Regions from separate parts of the Homo sapiens genome. Here region 2 is linked to region 1. Evidence: fine-mapped expression QTL. Tissue or cell type: whole blood. Region 1 holds a variant in brackets; the other region holds the start of a gene. All regions are shown on one strand. Distances are from middle to middle.

Region 1 (8,105 bases):
CTTTCTCGGAATTCAAGAGGCTGCATTCTCCTGCTTGAGAAAAGGTGACATAATGCCACTGGGGTCCTGAGGAGAGTGCTGATGCTCTATCCCCACTGTTTGCATGTGTCCCAGCCCAGCAGACTCAAAAACTCTCTCTGGGATGCTGGAGTTGGGGTTAGAGGGCATTTCTCCTCCATGGTGACAGGAGAAATGTTGTCAATATTTCCTGTAGGCAACACCAGGGCGGGGCAGCAGCTTGTTTCTGGCTTCAGGCTTCTTGGACTTTACTCGACCTGTTTCAGGAAGGTAGAAAAGCGTGTGCCTCCCTGTCTGAAGCAGTCGAAATGTTCCTGATTAGAACACAGAGTCTTTGCACACAGAATAATATTCAAGGCCAGGCACAGTGGCTCATGCTTGTAATGTCAGCTACTCAGGAGGCTGAGACAGGAGGATTTCTAGAGGCCAGGAGTTCAAAGTTATAGTGAGTTATGCTTGCCCCTGTCTGTAAAAATGAGGAAGAAGGAGGAGAAGAAGGAGGAGAAGAAGAAGAAGAAGAAGAAGAAGAGGAAGAGGAAGAGGAAGAGGAAGAGGAAGAAGAAGAAGAAGAGGAGCAGGAGGAGGAGGAGGAGGGGAGGAGGAGGAGGAGGATTCAAAATTCACCTGAGAACTTGTTGCTGTCTGTTGGCTTCTTGCCAGGGAAGGCCCTGCTGTGATCCAGGGCAAAGTGGACTGGCAGGGGCTATGAAGCAGGGATGGCAGCCAGAGTGATAACAGAGTGCTCCCAGCAGGTGGCGAGGGGCTGCAGAATGATGAGAGACTAGAAAGAACCTGGTGGCCCAGAATGCGGATCTGGGGGCCAGGGCCTCGGTGTGTGGTTCTGCAGGTTGTGCCCTGCGCAAGCTCACCCAAGTGAGTGGGGACAATCCAATAGTCAAGACCTTTATCCTGGGGCCACTTTTTCCTAATTCTCTCAAAGGCATTGCAGCTCTCCAAGCTGTACATCTAGCAGGAGGAGGCACCTTATGAATTCCCAGTGCCCGGAGTGGGTGAGACTCCCCCCAATTCCCTTCTTTATTCTCTCTGGTGTCCATTTTGCTTCCCCAAACCCCCTCATACCTGTTCCTACTCATGAGATTTTCATGTTTTAGGGGCATGTCTTGCCTAAGCCTCCTGACTCTTTATTCTTCCTGGAGCCTCACTCCTCTATAACTCCATCACCCTTTTACTGCCAGTGTCTCAATCCAGGCCCCCGGTTCTTACCTCAGGCAATGATAGAAATTATCTAGAAAACATTGTGAGTGCCTGCTTTGGCACACCTGAAATCTGGTCACTTAAGCAATCAAGATGAGGAAGAGCTGGGAACGCTCAAGGCTCCTCCCATCCACCTCGTGTCACTCACTGTTCCCTTTCACTTACACATGTTTACTGAGCATCTAGTATGTATCAAACACTGTTCAAGGCTTTGGTGACACAACAATTCACAAAACAAGCATAAATAAATCCTCTAGCTATAACTAGCTTCTAGTTGTAGTTATAGTTCTGGTTTTGGTAGGTTATGTTCCCTTCGATTTCACCATTCTTCTCTCTTGGTCTGATGCCCTGAAAACCCTCCTCCTCTCTCTCCCTCCAGAAGGCCTCGTGGTACTTAGACACCCTGCAGGGATGAACTGTTTCTCACATGGGGAACATATGTGTAAATTTTGCTCTCCAAGTGCCTTTGCATCCGGGTCTGGCAAGAGTTCCAAATCATTGTTCTCCACCTTGGATCCACTTTCGTGTACTATTTATTGTTTTTTTGACTGACAGCCAGCAAAGGCGGGTAGGGGCAAGGGTGGCAATGAGCCCAGGCTCTGAAACATAGCATTTATTAGGAGCTGTGGGGTCATTTTTCCTGTTATTTTTCTTGATTGTGGCTGTGTTGTCCTTCAGTAAGTGTCTGTAGGCTTCTATTTGCTAGATGAGGTAGTGGCCGGCTCTGTCTCTTTCATTCCTCCCCTTTTTTCCTTTTTTCTTTTTTGCTTAAAAAACACTAAGGAAAAATGTCAGAAGATAATGTAGCAAATGCCTATGATAAACATGCATATGAACCACCCAAAATGAACAAATGTTAACATTTGCGTCATGTTTGCCAGCAACTTTTTCTAGCAAAAGAAAACATTACAGTCCAGGCCTGGTGGCTCATGCCTATAATCCCAGCACTTTGGGAGCCTGAGGTGAGTGGATCACTTGAGGTGAGGAGTTTGAAACCAGCCTGGCCAATATAGCGAAACCCTGTCTCTACTAAAATACAAAAGTTAGGTGTGGTGTCACACGCCTGTAATCCCAGCTACTCAGGAGGCTGAGGCAGGAGAATTGCTTGAACCCGGGAGGCAGAGATTGCAGTGAGCTGAGGTTGCGTCACTGTACTCCAGCCTGGGTGACAGAGCAAGACTCCATCTATCAAAAAAAAAAAAACAAAACAAAAACCAAACCAAACCAAAACCACGTTACAGATGCCACCGACGTCCCTGCATTCTCCTCCTCAGTCCTATTTTTTATTGTCTGGGCTGTGATGCAAATCCAGGCTATGTTTATGCATCCATAAATGGTATGTACTATTTGGTTTTGCACTTTTAAAATTTGTCATAAGTGCTATTATACTACATGAAGTAACTCTAAAATGTGCTTTCTTCACTCAGTGTTATGTTTTTTGGTATCTGTCCCTTTTACACCCATAGATGTAGTTTGTTCATGTTAACTGCTATATAGTATTCCATCAGATGAATAATAAAATTGATTTCTTAATCCACTACTGATAGACACTTAGATTATTTCTATTTTTTACCATTACCAACTATGTTACAATGAACATTCTTGTAGATATTTCCCCATGCATGTACAGAAATTTTCAGTTGTATGTACCTAGAAAGAAGTCAAATTGCTGAGTTGAGGGGTATCTGTAGATATTGCAAAATCGCTCTTTCAGATGGCTATACCGATGCACAGTTCTGCCAGAAATATCTGAGAGAATCTGTTTCTCTACAGCCCCATCAACATTTCACCCTAGGCCCTCCCACTCTGTTCTCACAGTGACCGAGTTTCCTAGACACTGTCATACCAGGTGATCATCTCCTATCCAGCCCTCCTTCCTCTTGCTTCTCCTACCTCACTGCCAGATCAACCCTATTTAAGGTTTCCTTCTCCACAACATGTTCCCGATCTACTCCTCTGGCTGGAATTTAAGGCCCTCCACAGATGGATCCAGGCAACCTTTCCAACATCATCTCCTGCTGCCTGCCCTCAGCACACACTCAGGAAGTCTTTGGTTCCTCCAGATTCTTCCACTTGCGGGTCTCTCTCCAACATGTCCCCACCTGTTGCCTGCACACCTCTGGTC[C/A]TGCCACCATTCTCTACACCTAGTCTCAGTGTTCACTTCCACCTAGGAAAACCTCATTCATTTCTCACAACTTGCCTCAATGACAGCTTTCTTGGAAGCCTCTCCAGATAACTCCAGGCAGAGTCCCCCTCTCAGCTCCCACTGTACTTTATATAGCATTTATTTCTCTATTATAGTATTTATCCCAGCAGCTTATACAAATCAGACATAAAGCCTCTTGACTCTTTTGCTTGGAAAGTAAGTGTAACCAAAATGGATCTCGTTTTCCTTTGTTGCTTAGAATTCCTTCAACAAACTAAACAAATGTGTATTACATACCTACTCTGCACTAGGTGCTGAGTGGTGGCTGAGCCAGATGAGGCTCCTGGCTTTGTGGCACTTCCAATGTGATGGGGTGAAGGGTGACATGCGTGGTTATCATCCTCTGAGAAAGTTGCCCTCCTCAGTCCTCCGAGGCACACCTGTCTGACTGGATGCTCAATTCCTAGTTTCTGTCCCCAGTGCCTGGCACCAACTAGGGGCCTCAGGGCGAGCTTGCTTGCATGGCAGGTCGGGCATTAAAAGTCTTGGACAGTTGAAGGAGGAGAACCATATTTCAGATAAGTCACAGAGGTGCCAAGAGGCCAGGAGCCTGTGACCTTCAGGCCAACCGCCCTGGGAGTTGCCTGGGAGGCCACATGATTTCTGGAACAAGGCAAAGGGTCTCAACTGAAAGAGATGGGCTTGGGGATGAGGGAGGAGATGGAGTAAGGACCTGGCTACATTGCAGTCCTCCCCATTCCTTCCTCTTCCAGTCCAGCTTCCCCCATGTCCCTCTCATTCCTCCAGGAGCACACGACACTCTCGCCTGGTCTATCCAACTTAGGCTGACCACCCTGGTGGTTTTTAAATGAGTCATCTTCCTGTGTTTGGGAAGGGAAGACCCCCTCCAGGTTGCAAATGAAAAGGGTAGGTGGGGGCCTCTCCTGAGCCATCCCTCTCTCCACCCCTTTCTTCACCCTCTGCTCCCCCCAGCCCCTCTGTAGACATTCTCTGGCCAAGCTGCTAACAGAAAAGGAGGATTTTCTGTGTTACTAATATGTTAACGGTGCAGCTGTGACTCAGCCCTCATGCCCTCTGTAGAAGGAGGCTTGATTTCCATTTGCAAAAGGCAATAGGGATCTGATGAGAGTCTTTCCTGTGTGGAAACATTTCCTGCTCTTGCCCAGTCGGATTGGCACCTTATTTAAACAGCCATAACAATACATCCTAAATTGGGTAAGGGAAATGGAAAACAATGTTGAGAAGAACATAATGACCAGAATTGAATGTGAGCCTTGCCTCGTTAGGATTTGAGTGCAGCAAACCAGGAATTAGGAGCCTTCTCTCTGGTCTAATCAGCTGCTTCACCCCGCGCACCCCAGGCTTCTCAGCCATTTCTTCTGAGAAGTTAGGGGGCCCATCCTCTCACTGGATTCTTGCGACAGTCGCCTGACCAGTTTGCCTGTCTCCATTCTCTCCACCTCCAATCTTCTCCATTCTGGGGACAGGACGCTCCATAACTCCTTATGACCTCTGGCACAGTTTCCTAGAACTGTGTAAACTCCACCACACTAATTGAAATGCCTTCAAGAGGTACAGATGAACTTTTCTTTTTACTTGAATGCTTGCATATTTATTTTTCTATATATGAGAGAAAAGTATAACCAGCATACCTGTGAAATCCATGATTTCACAGAGATATTATTGCTGAGAATGAGGCTGAAGTTCAGAATCGTAGACTGGCAGAACAGAAAAGGGCCCGAGGGATCATCTCGCCATGCACATGTCTTTGCCTTCAGTTCCAATTTTTGTATGCTGTCTGACTACATCTCTGCGTGCTGACCTCCTACCCAACCTTCAAAGCCCATCTCAAAAGCTGCTTCTTTCATAAGTTACATGTTGTCTCTCCCAATAGACTGGGAACTGTTTGTAATACGCTCCTCATTTTGGGGTCCACTCCTCCACCCCCATCTCATTCCCAGCACATAATTGGCCTCAAGCAATGTTTGTGGAAGAAATTAATACTCCTACCATCTACAGCAACACAGAATAAGTCTGCTTCTCCTTCCCAGAACCTGAGCTTGGGATAGACACTCACAGCGAGCTCCTTGGTGGGGTCTCAAAGAGAGTGGGTGAGTTCCTTGAAGGCTGCTTGGAACCAAGGACTCCACCTAAGGACTTGGCCATCATGAAGAGAACCTCACAACTCTTCAACAAGGCCTCACTGAACACCTGCTTACTCTGGGCCAGCTCTGCTGTAGGTGCCAGGGATACTCCATAGCCCTCTCTTCCAAGGAGATGCTGCAACGCTTTCTCTGCCATACTCCTCTGTCTACACTGTGTGGGTGGGAAGTAGAGCCTTCCTGCTTGCATATGTCAATGACAGGTTCCAGTACTATTTTGACAGGTTGTTCCAAAATGATTGCTTTTTGATTGGTGCAGTAAGCTTTAGGAAACCCCCCAATCTCCACTCCCATCTCTCCAGTGCAATAAGCAGAACATTTTCAAACTCTTCCCTGGGCCACTTTAGCTGTTGTCTGAGCTGATCCGCATTCTGTCGTTCTTAATAGCTTCCCTTTCAGAGAATGACATGCTCTTCTGGACTCTTTCTCTCTCTTCTGAAATAGAGTTGGTTTTTTCTTGATTAGAAAAGTAAAATATGTGTGTCTGTTTACTTATTGGTAAAGAGTTTGTTACTTAAAGCTCTTTATATAGTAAAGATATTAACCCTTTTCTGTCCTATGCTGCAAATATCTTTTTCTTTCCCAATTTGCTATTTTCTCTTTGATTTTTGGTTTGTTGTGCTTTGGGATGTGCTAACATTTTTTTAAATGATGCTGCCAAATATGTTGACATTTTCCTTTGTGATTTTAATGCTTAGAAAGTCTTGCCTCCTCCCAGACCAAATAAATACTCATCTATATTCTCCCCAAGTGGCGAGGATGACATTCATCGACCTCACCCCATTTGAGTTCTTTTGGGATCCCCTTTTCTAGCCTCCATGATGCCCCTCCCCCTGCAGTTAGCACAATTTTTCTTCAGTTGAGGCACAAAGCAGTCATTAGGCTGGAGCTTTAAATATGCTAATGAGATCACCCTTTCCCCCGTCACTCTTTCAGCCCCTTTGTAAAAGGACAGCTTGGGGTGGATCCCTTTGCCTGTTGTCCCGTCTCCCGCTTCCTAACCCCCTTCTTTAGCAAGCGGGGAGAGAAAGAGAAAAAGGAAAGTGCTAACTAACTTCAAGTATTGGAGGCTACCTAGATGTCACTCCATTTCCAGTGTACACTTTTCACCTCTCCTCAGCAACTACATTTTCAGTTAGGTCCGAATCCAGAGCTCCCAGTTAATGGAAAGTCCCTGCGCATCTAAACACTCAGACTTGAGCAAAGTCACGCAGCCAACAGCCCGAGTTCCCCAGCAACCGCCAGGCCGGGCTTGCTGCATCTTCTCCATCACTGGCACGGTTGCCATGGGAACGCGAGCGCTAAATTACTTTGCGTGTTTGGAAGCTGAAGACCTCAGCTTTGACGCATGTAGCCCAGAAATCGATTGACCTCCAATTAGGTTTTTGTTGTTTTCTTGAGGCATCTTTCTGTTTGTGTCTTGCCTATGCCTCTTGAGGACTGTGTTGGAGGGAGATCTGAGCATTTAGCTTAATTTTTGTAAAAAATTATTTCCACCTTGACTTATTCCAAAAAGGGTTTAAGGTGGCTTATAAGATACATCCTATACTTGGAGAGAACCTAAATTAGATGTAAGGGAGGAAGATGAGGCAGAGAGAAAACAAGGGTAACTTGTGAAGAAGTCGTGATAGAAAGTGAATTTCAGGAAGTCCCCTCTTGATAAATGTGGGTCCCAAATTTGACTTTAACCTTTCATGGCAGATAACAAAAAGGGAGGTATGATCAGTTATAAGATTCATAGATAAAAGCAAATCAACTGCTTAACAGAAACGCAAATGTTCCGAACCTTGAGACTAAAAATCTACTTCTTTACTGGAGATTCTAAAAAAGATGTCACCTTTTTAGTCCTATCACCTAGCATATTACTTGAACAGATGAAAGCATATTCTAACCTTGGTAGGTGGTTTCTTTTATCAAAACTTTCCACTTTTGTTATTGTTGTTGTTAAATAAGTAAATTGCTTTTTTTGTAATGGCAAAATAGAAAAAAATCGTGTAAATAACCATGGAATACTATGCAGCCTTTAAAATTTTTTACGGAATTATTACCACCTAGATTTGGCCACCATTAACCCTTTTTTTAAAAGCGGACATTTTCCCATGTAAATCAGTACCTCCTTTCTGCAGGACAGTTGGGCAATATGTTTCAAAAGGCCTAAAAATGTATACATCCTTTGATGTGGCAATTCTACTCTTAGAAATGCATACTAAGGGAATAATCAAACGAGTGCTAGAGATGCATGTACAAAGATGTGCATCAAAACATTGGTTATGATGTAAAGAGAAAGGGAGAAAATTCTGTGTTCCCTACAGTAGGTGACTGGTTATGTAAACTATGGAGCATCCATATAGTGGGGCATTATGCAGCTGTTGAAAACAAAGATGGAAGTGTCTATTTACCAACAGGCCTCCTAGACTATATCAAGCCTCACCAATATACTCTCTCAGCACCCTGTACCCTTTATTCATTGCAGTTGTTATTGCTTCATAATATATGTATTTGTGTGCTTATTTAACGTCTGCGCACACACACACACACACACA
Region 2 (8,105 bases), 140 kb before region 1:
TTTTCTTGTGTAAAGTAAGCATGTTAAGATAAAATTACCTATTAAATGCAACAACATTCGAATGTTCCTAATTATAGTCTCATCCTAACAAGACAGAGCGGGTAAAACATGACGGTTGGGTGGCGGGTGAGGGATTGGTGGTGAAGGAGGATCTACATAGGACATGAAGATGAGGGACTGAAAAAGAATTTGTTCACATTCTGCTGAAATCTCCCATAGTTTCCTTCATAACGCCACAAGTCTTTTTTCGAAGTCTCAGCCTGTGCTCAGAGTCAGGGTCAAAGTTCAAACAACGTCAAAGTTTATTTTTGAAATAAAGGTTTATTTCCTCACGGAATTCTTGAAGGGTTTGCCCCATGTGTGTGAAGCATTGAGACTGGACTGAAAGGAATTTATTTTAGGACCCTGAGCCGTCTTTGGCTCACACGCTTACTGCCCTAGGAGATGATTGATGGCCATGTAAGTTTCCAGTCCACCCTTGGAGGCCCAGCTCTGGGGTTACATCCCTCCCACTCAGCGAAGCCTCTGTTGCCTCTAGGGCAGAAGCATGCTCTTTCCTCTCAAATCTTGTAGCACTGATCCACTCAATGTACCCACTCTTTTTTTTTAACTTTGCATGCTTCATTAATAATTTATCTAATTCTATATGTTTTGATAAATTGTTAATAATCATTATAAAGATAAACTCAATCCACAAATCCCTCTCTTTTCAGAGTGTAGCATTGATTAGCCTTGATACTGTCTGCATTGTTAATTGAATTATAGGCTCTATCTGACTGAAAAGCTGGCAGTTCGATTTCTTTGGGCTACTGGGCTGCCTATCTGAGGAGAGAGAGTTTAATTGTATTCTTAACTGCAGAGCCATGCATTTATACCAAAAAGGGTAAATGACATTTAAAAAGAGAGTCGATTCAATCTAGTATTTGCCAATTCTTGTTAATTTCTCTTGGTACAGACACTTAGAACCAGAGAACAGAATGTTAGAGTTAGGATTAATGAGCAGCCTTTTCATACCCCCACTGCCTGTATATATATTTTTATTGAGTCTCATGGCAAGAGGGTGTGGGGTGAAATATATATTCTTAAAACTTAGATAAAACACAGTGCGACCCTGTAGTTCCAGCTACTTGGGAGGATTGCTTGAGCTGGGTAGTTCGAGTTCAGTCCAGGCAACATAGCAAGACGTTGTCCCTAAAACCAGAAAAAAAAAAAAAAAACTTAGATAAAACAATTGACTGTAGAGGAATATCAAAGAGAAAGCCAACATCTCTTCTTAGCCACCAAGTTGCTACTATCTGGCATATTTGAGAGGTAGCAACATGGAGGCAGTTTTCTTGTTTCTCATCCTGAAATAAGACTGAGGGCTGTACTGGGAAGCTGGGTAGGTTACATGAGGTTTGCTCATAAATTTTCATTTTGCAGCTGTGGAAACTGCCAGCTCAAGGAAGGAGAAATGGCATATCCTGTGTCACTTATTTATTCTTTCAAGTTCATTTTTATTGAAATTCTAGGTTCTTAGCAGCAGCTAGGAAGGCAGATTGGGAGATGGGAAGGAAAGCAGAGGCCTTACTGGTCTTGAGTGGTCAATGCTCCCATTTCCTCCTGCCTCTCTGGCTACTCCTTCTGTCTCTGTTTCTAGGTCGGATCCATACCTGATTCCACAGGGGCTTAGGCTTAGGCTCAGAGTGCAACTCCAAAATCTGGTGTCAGGATGAACTGCTGCAGGCCTGGAGCATGGGAGTTGGTGGGTGCGTGGGAAGCATCCAGCACTTTCAGGTCTGGCTTGGCTGTGAAGGGCCTCCCCTTCTCTTCTTTGCACCTTCATTTTCTCTCTCTCCTTCTGAATGTGAAATGCCAAGGTTTATAGGCAAATCAAAGCAAATGTTGAATTCACAGAGCACTTTCTGGCTACTTGGCTCTGGAGATGTGAGCGCAGGTGGGGCGTAGCAGCCTTGGCCTCCACATGAAAAGTTCTTAAGCACTTCCTTCCTTGTGTCAGGCAATGTTCTACTCCAGAATCCACAACGACTCTCTATAGCCCCTTCGGCTGAGTTGAATCCTTTAGTAAGGCTCTTCATATCTTGCTCTGCCTATAATCCTCCATTTATTCATTCATTCATTCAGCAGGCATTTTCAGAGTACCTGTGGTGTACCCGTCACTGGGCTTGGCACTGGGCATACAGCAGTGAACAAGACAGAAGTGATTCCTGCTGCCATGCAGCTAACAATCATGTGGGGGAGACAATATTATTACAAAGGAATATTAGTATTACTATTAAACAAGGATGTTCATATCACCCTCCAGTACACTGTGCCAGATACTGTGCTAGAGGGTGATGTGGGAGCACAGGAGAGGACACTTTACCCTAGCTGCTTTCCTGCCCAGCCAGCTTGGCTGGAGCACGGTATTTCAAGAACTCTAACTTTCCCTCCACATACCAGAGCCTGGCTCCCTACGCTCCTTCCTCTGAGGCTTTCTGCATCTCTGCTCACCTCTTGAACCCAAGGCAGCCCCTTATTCGAGGTCTCACCTTTCCTGTTGGGAAGAGACTGGATAAGAAGCAAGGTGACAACTTATATTCCCTTGGCTTCTTCCATCATACATGCAGACCCACTCTAGTCCTGGCAAGGGAGGAGGGACTCTGCTGTGAAGTGACTCCATTGCAAATACTTGATGTTTCCTTGACGAAAGCCAGGGCCATCTCATTGATGAGGCTGGAGTGAGAGCAGACTAGGCTGGGGGAAAGGGGGTAGGGCCAAAGCTGGTTTGCTTGGAATTGGGCTTGTTATTATAGATCTCTGAAAGATTCATCAGCATCAGGAATCAGAGTAGTGAGGGAGGCTCAGCGACCAGGCCCAGTCCAGGCCTGCTGTGCTCAGGCAGTGAAGCTCTGACCACACAGTCTCCTTCAATCTGCTCGTACCTCATTTCTTCTTCTCCAGAGCAGAGATCAGTCTAAACAGCTCATAGGTCAAGGAAAAGTATCCCTGGAGAGTCCAGCCAAGTCCCTGCTTCCTCCCAGTTGCTCTCTTGGCTCAGGTTTGAGTTTGCCAAATCGAGAATTTGGGGTTTTTATTCTGCAACTGGATTTTACATTTCAGAAAGGGTACAAGTCTTTTGCCCATTTGTTGATTCTTATTTTAATCAGAACCCAACTTTTCTAATATCCATGTTCTAATTTACTAAACAAGAAACAACTATATGCTGAAAAGGGAAATCGGATTACGCTTTTACTTTATTTTTAATTGACAAACAATTATATGTATTTATGGGGCACGATGTGGTTTGATGTATATATATTAATACATTGTGGAATGATTAAATCAAACTAGTTAACATATCCATTACCTCACATATTTACCATTTTTCTGTGGTGTGAACATTTAGAATCTATTAGCAATTTTGAAATATACTAGTTGTAGAACCTTCTTGAACTGCTTCAGGGACAATTAATTATCTGAAGGAATGCATGAAAACAGGCCACGCTTAGAATCATTAATGTAGATGCAGGTATTCTGTTCAAAGTATTTTACTGGCCAGTGTGGTGGCTCATGCCTGTAATCCCAGTGCTTTGGGAGGCTGAGGCAGGAGGATTGCTTGGGGCCAAGGAGTTTAAGGCCAGCCTGGGCAACATAGGGAGATTCCGTCTCTTCAAAAAATAAAAACTAAATTAGCAGGAGTGGTGGCACGTGCCTATAGCCCTAGCTACTCAGGAGGCTGAGACCGGAGGATCCCCTGAGCCCAGAGTGAATTCAAGGCTGCAGTGAGCTGTGACCACACCACTGCACTCCAGCCAGGGTGACAGTGGTAGATCTTGTCTCTTAAAAAAAAAAGTGTTTTGCTAATGGATTATAAAGGATTATAAGGATGTGAACATTTGTAAGAGGAAAAATGAGAAGAGAATGAAGAGAAGGAAGAAACCGAAGTACACCAAAGTCAAAGAAGTGGGTTAGAGGAGAGTCAGATGGGAGCTCAGTGTGTTGAAAATAAGCGTTCTGAGTGGAAAGGTCCTAAGTGCATGAGGACATATGCTCACGTACTCTGGTTTTCTGAGGACAATAATGTGCCCCCTCTTTTCTGCCTTCTGGAATGGAGAGAAATCAGGCCGTGACCACAGGGTTGCCCGCACTGAAAGCACATCTCGGCTCCTGTAACCCTCTTCGGAGAGCATCCCAGCAGCCCAGCCTGGCCAGGGATAGAGCCTATCCCAGCTGGCGGACCCTACCAGAAGGAGGCGTCCCTGGGCTCTCTTTTTGCATAAACTATGGAGTGGCGTCCCTCTATCTGAATTAAGTCTATTGTTCCAGAAAATGGGTTTGTTTCTATTCATCCACTCCAATGGCTTTACAATGTCCAGCCACTGTGGGACTCCCTAGAGACATTGTCTTCTTGAACAGTCGAATAAGATATTTGGTTTTTTGGTCCTTATTTCCAAGCTCCTGGGTGCTAGAAGGTTGTATTCACAGCCTAGTCTAGCCCGTGCGTGGCACCGAGTACGTTTGGGAAAGGAAATCTAGATCAATAAAGTCAAACTATTCGGTCGGTCTTCGCTGATTACCCGCTGGTGTGGGCGCGGGTGTGCTTGAATTTTTTTTTTTTTTTTTGTAATTATGAAGAAAAAGTTTAAGTTAAAAAAAAAAGCAAAAAATAACTTTAACCATCAGAACTGGGAGTGGAGCTCCTCAGGAGGACCGGGGCACACATTCTACACCGTACCTTACGTCCCCCCTCACGCAGACATTCCTTCTTTCACGCTCCAGCTCGCTCTTTTTACTCCTACTTCCCTTTCTCCCTCTCCCGGATCAAGCGTTAATCTGCGAATCTCTGACCGCAAAAGAAGAAAAAAAAAAAAGGTGGGTGGGGGGATCCCGAAGTAGCAGAGCTAGGAGGAGGAGGAGGAGAAAAGAGAGGAGGAGGAGGGGGGAGGAGGAGGAGGAGCCCGGCGAAGCAGAGTCAGAGGGACTGGTGGCTCCGGCGAGTGTGCAGCCCCGGGGGAGCCGGCGCTCTAGGCGAGGAACCCGTCAGCCCGCCTACCCGCCCGTCGTCTTTGGCGCCCGCACGCTCTCCGGCCCGCGCCCAGGGGCCTGCTACACCCGGAGCTGGGGCCGCCGCTCAGGGGCGCTCGGGCCAGGGGCGCTGCTCGGGGTGAGCCCGCCGCGCCGCCAGACTGGTCCCCTGCGCCCGCGCCCGCGGCCGGGATGCCGTTCTACAGGCGCACGGTGGTACCCCAGCGCCTGTGCCCGCGCAACCCGCCGCAGCAGCTGGCGGAGCTCCGCGACGTGAGCCACCTGGCAGCGCTCAGCCTGCTCCGGCAGCTCGCCGACCTCTGTGGCCACTCGTTGGCTCTGCTCGAGGACCTCGAGGGGCACCTGCTGGCCCTGGGGCGCCGCACAGACAGCCTGTACCGGCGCACCGTGCGCCTCCGCCGCCGCCTTCCCTGCCGCCTGCTTGGCCCGGAGGAGGACGAGGAAGAGCTAGGTAAAAACGGCGCCCCGGTGGCTCGCGGCCCCGCGTCTACCCCGCCTCTAGGGGCGCCGGTCGGCGCTTAGCGCTGTGCCCACCCTCTCCCCGCCTCTCTCCGCCCCTCCCCTCCCCTCCATTCGGGGAGTGAGGGGATCCCATTTCCCCGACCCCCGCCTCCGCCCCACGGTCGCCCTACCGCTGGAACTTCCTGCTCTTGGACCCGGTCGCGCCGTCCGGAGTGGCCCCGTGCCCTTGGGACTCCCGACCCTGGGGTTGGTGGCCGCCTCCTGGGGTTTTGGCTGGGGACGCGCTGGGTCCAGGACGGCTTGGGCGATACTCCCCCTACCCGCCCACCTAGCCCCAGGCCCTCGGCGCCGTCCTCATCGCCGCGTCGGGAGCTAAATGGCCGAGCCGCTGGCTTCTTTGCTCCTGTCTAGGAGCTCGGCCACTTCAGAAAGCGCGCCGCAGCCGACCGCAACCTACGCGGCGGCAGGAGCCGGCGGTGGTGCCTACAGGCTTTAAACCTGTGCAACTTCCCGCTGGAGCGTGGACGCGGCTCCCACTCACAGGAGTGTCTGAGCGTCCTCCCGCTTGCTTCTCTCCGCACGTTTTGGGCCGCTGTGCTGGGGAGTGGCCGGGAGGGGGGAGGGGAGAATGTCCGGGGCTTTGCTGACCCCCTACCCACTACCGCTAGGGTCTGGCTGTTATTTGCTGGAGAGAATCATTTAAAGAAACTATCATCAGTTTCCTGAAGCGCATTCACTTTAGGAATCAGCCATGCCTGAGAAACCAGGTTCCAGTGGTGCCCTCACTGAGCACGCGGGACGTGTGAGAGGGTAGGGGGGCTACGCGAGCCCTTGTCCTTTACTGTTTTGGATCCCAGCACTTTACACGGGGAATCCTCTGTCTGTGGAAATGCAGTGCCCCTGAGAGTGTGGGACTTCTGCTGAAAGCAAGGGGACTGAGTAGGCTGGAAATGCTGACTACAGCTGGGGCATGCCAGGTACCAGGGCCAATCGGTTCCTCCAGAAAGCTGGGGAGAGAAGGAGCAGTGTGGCCAGAAAGTTTCCAATGGGGGCAGAAGATGACTGCTGGCTGATTTCTGAGTGCAAGCTTCCAGCTAACTTGGGAAAGAATTGCCTGGGCCAGCCCCTCTTCATTGCAGACCCCACCCCATCCCCACCCCTTCCAGAAGGACTGGAGTCAGGCCCTGGCACCTCTCTTCATAAAGGTCTCTGACCTCTGAGGTAGATGGCAGAGGTCTCTGGTGGAGATAAATGAACTGAGTCCTATTGGAAAAGAAAGGTGGAAGCCACAGATGACTGCCAGATGGAATGTAGACGTTGGACCAGGAGCCTCTGCATGGCAGGGGCTCAGTTTTTTGCTGGGGTCCCACTGATTACAGGATTAGTCTAGGAGAAATTTGATAAGTCAGCTTGAGGAGTAGTTTTCAAAATCCCTACACAGTTTGCAGAGAGCCACCTACTGAGTTCAGTAGGGTAAGTTAAGGACAGTTTTTTCAACTCTACCTTCCTGTCCACTGAATTAGCAAGCCCTTTCTGTGGGAGGGAAGGCAGGGCTTCACCAAGTCACCTTTGGGACCTAACCCTCTCCGGTGATCTGCCAGGTTAGAAGGAGATGGCTTTATGCAATGGATAGCTTGCAATGGAGAGGAACAATTGTTAAGTTAAATTACCACTGGTTTGGCTTCTTGGCAGTTTTCAAGAGCAGGAAGAGTGGCCATCTCTCATCCCTGGTGTGGCCTCTTGCTTTTGAGAATGTACATGTCCCACGGCTCAGAGGCACCCAAGGGACTGCTGCATAAATGGAACACAGCTACCTTCTGTAAGTTGGTGAAAAGGTCTGATTTTCCATTTTCTGGTCTAATGCCCTACCCTAGACTCCCCTTGAAGTTCTCAGTGCACACTTTTCTCTTCAGGAGCTGTAATTGGGTAGCACTGAAATTAGGCCTTCTCAGCAATGGTCTGAACATAAGTGCCAAATGCAAAGAGAGTTGGGGAGCGTAATCAGTGCACCATCTGGCCACTCCCTTGTCGCTCAGGCATAAGCTTCAACAGGGTGTTTAGCAAGCCGAATATTAGATTTTGACCGTAAGTAAGTAAATAAATGAACATTGTCATGTCTTGCCCTTTTTTCTTCCCTATGCGTTTTCCTCCTAGGATTCCCACTCCCTTACTGACCATTTTGCTGGGGGTCAGCATTTTACCCTGCATATCCTCCATCTGTCTGGATTGCCCTCAGATTCTTCCTCTAGCTATTTATTTTGACCATGGGGCAGGAGAAACCTGGGAAGGTGGGAGGAAGGTTGGAAAGCAACATGGCCAGAGTGAATGACAGCTGACAGGCCAGCAGTATATAGCCTCCCTGCAGTGACAACTTGGCTGCCACTGACTGAGTAGTGGCAAGTCAGACTGGCCTATAGCCTGCAGGCTGGGCTGGGGCCCTGAGAAGCAGCAGGGGAGGACAGAGAGAGGAGGAGCGAGATAGAGGAGGAGAAAGTGGATGCTGAAGAAGTTGAAGGTGCTTCTCTACACAATCACAATCATGGGTCATGCCCCCACCATCTTCAAGGTTACAGGGGTGGACTGGGCTAGGCTAGTTGCCTCGCAACATCCCACCC

Evidence for each region. PIP is the estimated chance that this variant, and not a neighbour inherited with it, causes the effect.
Region 2: it holds the start of NHSL2, and the variant in region 1 is fine-mapped to the expression of NHSL2 in whole blood (TOPMed, PIP 0.96).

What each region holds. Positions count from the first base shown.
Region 1 is chrX:72,048,468-72,056,572 of GRCh38, forward strand. The region is part of intron 1 of NHSL2 (NHS like 2); the gene reads left to right. Among named protein-coding and RNA genes, the nearest start is that of RTL5, 79 kb to the right of the region's middle. The variant C/A (reference allele first, on the strand shown) is at 3,359.
Region 2 is chrX:71,905,889-71,913,993 of GRCh38, forward strand. NHSL2 (NHS like 2) reads left to right here and starts at 4,957. Exons shown (of 8, transcript NM_001013627.3): 1 at 4,957-5,479. The coding sequence starts at 5,200.